2 linked regions of the Homo sapiens genome follow. Changing the gene in region 1 together with any one later gene gives a genetic interaction. Each region holds a gene or a part of one and is shown on either strand. Other genes may lie near its edges. The genes, in order: CDC14A and CHEK1.

Region 1 (3,827 bases):
GAATGCTGCAACAGATGATCCAGAGAACAAAAAGACCTCCTCATCCTCTAAGGCAGGCTTCACAGCCAGCCCGTTTACCAACCTCTTGAATGGCAGCTCCCAGCCAACTACCAGAAATTACCCTGAGCTCAACAATAATCAGTACAACAGAAGCAGCAACAGCAACGGGGGCAACCTGAACAGCCCCCCAGGCCCCCACAGCGCCAAGACAGAGGAGCACACCACCATCCTCCGACCCTCCTACACCGGGCTTTCTTCTTCTTCAGCGAGATTCCTGAGCCGTTCTATCCCTGTAAGTGCGCAGACACCACCTCCTGGTCCTCAGAACCCTGAATGCAACTTCTGTGCCTTGCCTTCCCAGCCGAGGCTGCCACCAAAGAAATTTAATAGTGCCAAGGAAGCCTTCTGAGCGATGCCTTCCCTCTGTGCTGTGAAACTGTCTATGCACTACATTCTGCTAGCTCCTCTTCAAGTAAACGCCAAGTCACAACTGGGTTTTCTTCCTTCCTTCTTTTTCTTCTTACCCCCAACTCCTTTTTAAGTAGTTTCTCTTAAAAGGGAAATAGCTTTCATTCTTTTGATTATGGGCATTGTTGACTTCAGTTACTTTTCAGTTATGTTTCCAATCACTCTGAATATCTGGTGCTAAGCCAGGAGCTGATTCATACAGTGGATAGCATTTGCTGGGGGTGCGCTGGTTTGGGGAATTATGGCTTTTTCCGCATCATATATCAGTGAATTAATTTTGGAGTATTGAAACGTGGAAGGTGCTGAGTGAACAGTATCTTCCTAGAACTAAGCATTAGGCCCTTGAATATTTCACCTCCTGCAAGGAACTGACCCAGAATAAAATAAGTGGCAAGTGGAAGATATTTCTAAGAAGGGCTTATAGGTAGGTACCTGGGATGCAAGGTGGGGAGCAAGCAGAGTATCAGGAAGGTGTTTAAAAGTAGCCAGCACTCTTCTAGAGAAAGGTGGGAAGACCTCCAAACACATCTTACCAATGAGATCTCTATTTAGGTTACCAAGCTCTCTTTAACAATCAACAATACCTGGTAAGGTAAACTCTGTTGGTAAACTCCTATTATGAATTACTTTAATAACCTGTTTTGATTGCCTCTAGGGGTATTGAGATCTATAGGAATGTGAGTTTCGATTTGAGAGGAACAAGGACAAATAGGAAGGAGAAATCAATCCTATGTATTAAGGAAATATGAAGCATGGTACATATACATACAGTGTTGCAACACTGATCGTACTCAGGGCATGAACAAGCCCTGGGTGTCTTGGAAGGCTCTGGCCTGGTGTCGCTTCACACTTGCTATTCTTGAAACATTTCCTCAGCCATCATCTAGGGAGTGCCTGCTTCTGTAGAGAAGAGGGGAGGAGGAAAGGTGCTGGTGGCAGTGTGCTGCGTATGGCCCACTCAGCAAAACAGGAGCCCCATGGTTCATTCTTAATGATATCTACTTTCTTTAGTTGACAGTTTAGAAACCATGAGGATGGGCCAGGCTCAGTGGCTCATGCCTATAATCCCAGGACTTTGGGAGGCCAAGGCTGGTGGATCACCTGAGGTCAGGAGTTCGAGACCAGCCTGGCCAACATGGTGAAACCCCGTCTCTACAAAAAATACAAAATTAGCTGGGCGTGGTGGCACGCACCTGTAATCCCAGCTACCATAAGGCAGGAGAATCCCTTAGAACCTGGGAGGTGGAAGCTGCAGTGAGCCAAGATCGTGCCACGGCACTCCAGCTGGGTGACAGAGCCACTCTCAAAAAAAAAAAAAAAAAAAAAAAAAAAGAAACCATGAGGATGAGGATGTTTTCTAACATGAGAATGCAGTGTGTGTGTGTGTGTGTGTGTGTGTGTGTGTGTGTGTGTGTTCATGTGTGGTTGCATTAGATTCATTACCACTCCTGTCCCTACCTGAGACCTCTTTTAAAACTTTTACCCTCTCTGTCCACTCTCAACCCATTCCCTAAGAGGAGCCTGGCATATCTGATGTTCCCTGTCCTATTTTACAGGCATGAGCCACCATGCTTGGCCTTGGCATTAGTTTAGATTCTTTTACAGATTAGGGTCCCAGGAAATTGCCAGCCCATCTACCCCTTAATCTGATTCTGATCCCATGATCCCACTATAAAAATTGGGTGTATAGGTATCATAAAAACTTAAATCCATGTAACTAAGGATTAGATGTAAAAAGATAATATATTTACATTTTCCTAACTATATTTATAAATCATATACTTTCCAGCAGGCATTGAGTTCAGTCAGCATTTTCACATACCGATTGTGGATCAGCCTCTTCTTTTGGATCAGAATGCAGATCTTTCCATTTTCAGAAAAAGTGCTAGAGATATATAGATAATCATACAGTCATGTGCTGCCTAATGATGTTTTGGTCAATAACAGACCATGTATACAATGGTGGTCCCATAAGACTATAATGGAGCTGAAAAATTCCTATTGCCTAGTGACGTCGTAGCCCTCGTAGGGTTATAACTGCAGTACTCATGTGTTGTGGTGATGCTGGTGTAAACAGACCTACTGTGCTGCAGCCATATAAAAATCTAGCAATACAATTATGTACAGTGCATAATATTTGATAATAAATACCTGTTACTGGCCTATGTATATACTATACTGTACTTTATATCGTTATTTTAGAGTATACACCTTCTCCTTATTAAAACAAAAGTTAACTGTAAGCCTCAGGCAGGTCCTTCAGGAGGTATTCCAGAAGAAGGCATTGTTGTTATAAGAAATGACAGCTCCATGTGTTACTGCTCCTGAAGACCTTCCAGTGGGACAAGATGTGGAGGTGGAAGACAGTGATATTGATTATCCTGACCTGGTGTAGGCCCAGGCTAATGTGTGTGTTTGTGTCTTCATTTTAAACAAAAAATTTAGAAAGTAAATACTAAAGATATTTAAAATAAAAAAAATAGGATAAGGATGTAAAGGAAGAAAATACTTGGTACAGTTACACATACAATGCTTATTTTAAGTGTTAATTTCAAGTGATTGGGAGTTGATAAAAACATTAAAAAATAGTAAACTAAGTATTATTACAAAAGAGTCAAAAGTTAAAACAATTAAGTTTATAAAATAAAAATGTTACAGTAAGCTAAGGTTAATTGATTATTCATGAAAGAAAAATTTTTAATATAGATTTAGTATAACCTAAGTGTACAGCATTTATAAAGTCTACAGTAGTGTTCAGTAATGTCCTAGGCCTTCATGTTCACTCACCACTCACCCACTGACTCACCCAGAGTAACTTCCCTTCCTGCAAGCTCTATCCATGGTAAGTGCCCTTTACAGGTGTACAATTTTTAAGTCTTTTATACCATATTTTTACTGTCTATTTTCTATGTTTAGGTATGTTTAGACACACATACTTACCACTGTGTTATAGTTGCCTGCAATATTCAGTAGAGTAACATGCTGTACAGGTTTGCAGCCTAGAAGCAATAGGTTATACCATTTAGCTCAGGTGTGTAGCAGGCTCTACCATCTAGGTTTGTATAAGTGCACTCTATCGTGCACACAGCAATGAAATTGCCTAAGGATGCATTCTCAGAATGTATCTTTGTCATTAAGTGATGCATGACTATGTAAATACCTTGCAGATTACATACGTAAAGGTATTGTGTAATCCACATTTATAGCTGAATGCCAGTAGCATTGGTAGCTTGACAAGAATAATGTTCTACTTTTTTGTTTTCCTCTTTGCTGGTAGAACCATGGGGGCAATTCTTTAGACAATTGTTAATCTCCCCTAATGATGTTTACATAACTTGATTTGGGTCTCGTTCCGTATT
Region 2 (3,827 bases), on another chromosome or scaffold:
ACAAGTCAGGCCTTTTTCTTTCTCACATTTTAATAATCTTGTTTTTCCTCCCATTATGTTTTCATCTTTGATTGTTTCTTCTTTCAGTGGTATTTTGGTAAAAGACAGTAAGTTTTGTTGCTATGAGTTCATATACACTCAATCCCTAGGAGCTGCACCCCTGTTGATAGATTGGGTTGGGGACACACATACCCACTGGGAGAAGAGAGACTCTGGAATGAGTGAGATTATCAGCATACTTAATATTACTCCTGTTATGGAGGTAGCCAGCAAATTTTTTTTAATTGATACAATAATTGTAATGTATTCATGGGGTATGTAGTGATGTTTTGATTCATATAATGTATAATGATCAGATCAGGATAATTAGCATATTCATAATTTCAAACATTGTGGGAATGGGAATGTTCAGTGATGGGAATGTTCAGTATCCTTCTAGCAATTTGAAACTCTATTATTGTTAAGTATAGTCATCCTACAGTGGTCTAGAACTTACTCCTATCTAGCTGTAATTTTGTATTCTTTCATGAATCTCTATCTTTCCCTTCCCTCTCCCCTTCCTGGACTCTAGTATCCTCTGTTCTGCCTTCTACTTCTATGAAATTAACAGTTTTTTTGTTTCCACATATGAGTGAGAACATGTGATGTTTAATTTTCTGTTCCTGGCTTATTTCACTTTACATAATGTCCTCCAGTTCCACCCATGTTGCTGCAAATGACAGGATTTCATTCCTTTATATGGCTGAGTAGTATTTCATTGTGTATATATATCATATTATCCTCATCTGTTTGCTTGGCTTTTTGTTTTGTTTTTTTGAGACAGGGTCTCGCTCTGTCGCCCATGCTAGAGTGCAGTGGCGCAATCATAGCTCACTGCAGCTTCAACCTCCTGGGCTCAAGTGACCCTTCTGCCTCAGCCCCCTGAGTAGCTGGGCCTGTAGGCATGCACCACCATGCCCGCTAATTTTTTGGGAATTTTAGTAGAGATGAGGTATCGATATGTTGCCCAGCCTGGTCTGAAGCGATCCTTCTGCTTTGGCCTCCCAAAGTGCTGGATTACAGGCGTGAGCCACAGTGCCTGGCCTACACTCATCTGTTGTTGGATACCTAGGTTGATTCCATATCTTGGCTATTGTGAATAATGCTGTAGGGTTGCAAATTTCTCTTCCATATAATTTCCTTTCCTTTGGATCAGTAGTGGGATTGCTGGAACATATAGGTAGTTTTATTTGTAGTTTTTTGAGAAACTTCTATTCTGTTCTTCATAGTGGGTTTACTAGTTTATTATCTACTCACCCATGTGGCTTAACCTTATTTTTGTTGCCTTAGGTTACTATATCAACAACTGATAGGAGAAACAATAAACTCATTTTCAAAGTGAATTTGTTAGAAATGGATGATAAAATATTGGTTGACTTCCGGCTTTCTAAGGTATTTTTATGTTTTATTGTATTCTTTCTATGGAAATATTTCTATATGAATTTTTTTAATGGCATTATGTTTGTATATATGTGGCATTTGTAAATAGGTTACTTGCTTTTTTCGTTTAATATTATGAGCATGTGTTTTCGTTATCTATTTTTCCCGAACATTGTTTTTTTCAAATGACATTTTCCTTATTATAAAAGTTTTTGCCAGGCGTGGTGGCTCATGCCTGTAATCCCAGCACTTTGGGAGTCCGAGACGGGTGGATCTCGAGGTCAGGAGTTTGAGACCAGCCTGGCCAACATAGTGAAACCCCATCTTTACTAAAAATACAAAAAATTAGCCAGGCGTGGTGGCGGGTGCCTGTAATCCCAGCTACTTGGGAGGCTGAAGCAGGAGAATCATTTGAACCTGGGAGGCGGAGGTTGCAGTGAGCCGAGATGACGCCACTGCACTCCAGTCTGGGTGACAATACAAGAGACTCTGTCTCAAAAAAAAGAAATTTCTGCTTTTGTGAAAAATGTAGATAAGCAAAAAATGAGAAAATAAAAATAATTCTAAATTTTCAGTGATCACATTAATATTTCGAAGCATTTTAATATTTTTCTTAATTTATGTCTTTTAATAAAAATTATGATTTGTTACAAATATTTCATTATAATTTAATGAACCTTTACCAGTTATAATAATTCTGTGATTGCTATTTTATGCATAGATTTTTTTGTTCATATTTCTGATGATTTCTTTAGAAATCATTGATTCTAAGATGATAGTATTACAGCCCTTGATATATAAAACCAAAATAACATTTTTCTCTATTTTCTGAGAGATTGTATGTGGCTCTAAAGAGGGTTGGAGGGGTAGCTGCTGTGTTAGAGCATTTGCCGCAGTACTCTTTGTATTAGAGATTTGCTGCAATACTGTTTTTCAGATGCTTGCTACAGAATTAAATTAAGATCGTAGTATAATGAAATTCTTCTCATAACTAAATCTATTGATTTTGGTCAGTAGTGTTATGACAACAAGACTTCAGTTTAGTTGTATAGTTTATTGTTAGTTTCCAAACCCTCACTGCCTATGGAATGTAATGACTTAGGTCCAGATATACCAACACCTGAAACAGATAGGATGCCATGTTTATCTGCTCTCTGAGCTCAGTGCAGTAGGAACAGTGATGGGCATGAAACCACATCAGAATTATTTGTGTAACAATTTTCTCTTCCAGGATATTTGGTCTTCATAAACAGACCGAAAAGAAAATGGTAGCTAGACATACCTAAAGATGTTTGTCTCTTGTTACCACTACAAAGAGATTGATTTTAGGACAGAATTTTGTTTTTGTTTTTGTTTTGACATAATTTTTTAATACTATTTCTAATATAGGGTGATGGATTGGAGTTCAAGAGACACTTCCTGAAGATTAAAGGGAAGCTGATTGATATTGTGAGCAGCCAGAAGATTTGGCTTCCTGCCACATGATCGGACCATCGGCTCTGGGGAATCCTGGTGAATATAGTGCTGCTATGTTGACATTATTCTTCCTAGAGAAGATTATCCTGTCCTGCAAACTGCAAATAGTAGTTCCTGAAGTGTTCACTTCCCTGTTTATCCAAACATCTTCCAATTTATTTTGTTTGTTCGGCATACAAATAATACCTATATCTTAATTGTAAGCAAAACTTTGGGGAAAGGATGAATAGAATTCATTTGATTATTTCTTCATGTGTGTTTAGTATCTGAATTTGAAACTCATCTGGTGGAAACCAAGTTTCAGGGGACATGAGTTTTCCAGCTTTTATACACACGTATCTCATTTTTATCAAAACATTTTGTTTAATTCAAAAAGTACATATTCCATGTTGATTTAATTCTAAGATGAACCAATAAAGACATAATTCTTGTGACTTTTGGACAGTAGATTTATCAGTCTGTGAAGCGAAGCCAGCTTCAAAACATATCCCCAAGATTTGTACTTATATTTTCAAAAGGGCCTGGCCAGTTATATAAACCTGTTTTTGAATTATAATGATTAATTAAAATTGCAAGTAGGTGTTTTTTCCAGTGTAGTTAGTAAAATACTTGTATTTTACAGTGTTGCATAAACTCTAGTGCTTAACTAACTTTACTCTAAAAATTACTGTTGAACATCTTAAATATTTTTCTATATTTTCTACTTTCATAGCCATATTTTAACCTTTTCAACTTACTGGTGACCAAGCTTTTAGGTGATAAAGAATAAAAGAGGGAAGGGAAGAGTAAGGAAGCTATAAGAAAAATAGATCTGATTCTTTGTTCCTTTACCTGTTAGACTTACAAAAAGTTTGTTTTTCTAATAAAATTTGTATCAACTTTGGGGCATATTAGGTTGAGGCCTTGGCTCCTGCCTGTAGTCCCAGCTACTT

Evidence for each region.
Region 2: changes in CDC14A (region 1) and CHEK1 are lethal when combined (synthetic lethality), as found in Homo sapiens cells (one large-scale study listed by BioGRID).

The regions. Positions count from the first base shown.
Region 1 is NC_000001.11:100,498,971-100,502,797, forward strand, and holds part of CDC14A (dual specificity protein phosphatase CDC14A), read left to right. Parts: coding exon 1-292; coding exon of another isoform or gene 293-409; exon of another isoform or gene 410-490; intron 491-3,827. UniProt on the Homo sapiens protein: Dual-specificity phosphatase. Required for centrosome separation and productive cytokinesis during cell division. Dephosphorylates SIRT2 around early anaphase.
Region 2 is NC_000011.10:125,652,417-125,656,243, forward strand, and holds part of CHEK1 (serine/threonine-protein kinase Chk1), read left to right. Parts: intron 1-1,329; coding exon 1,330-1,431; intron 1,432-2,808; coding exon 2,809-2,904; 3' UTR 2,905-3,827. UniProt on the Homo sapiens protein: Serine/threonine-protein kinase which is required for checkpoint-mediated cell cycle arrest and activation of DNA repair in response to the presence of DNA damage or unreplicated DNA.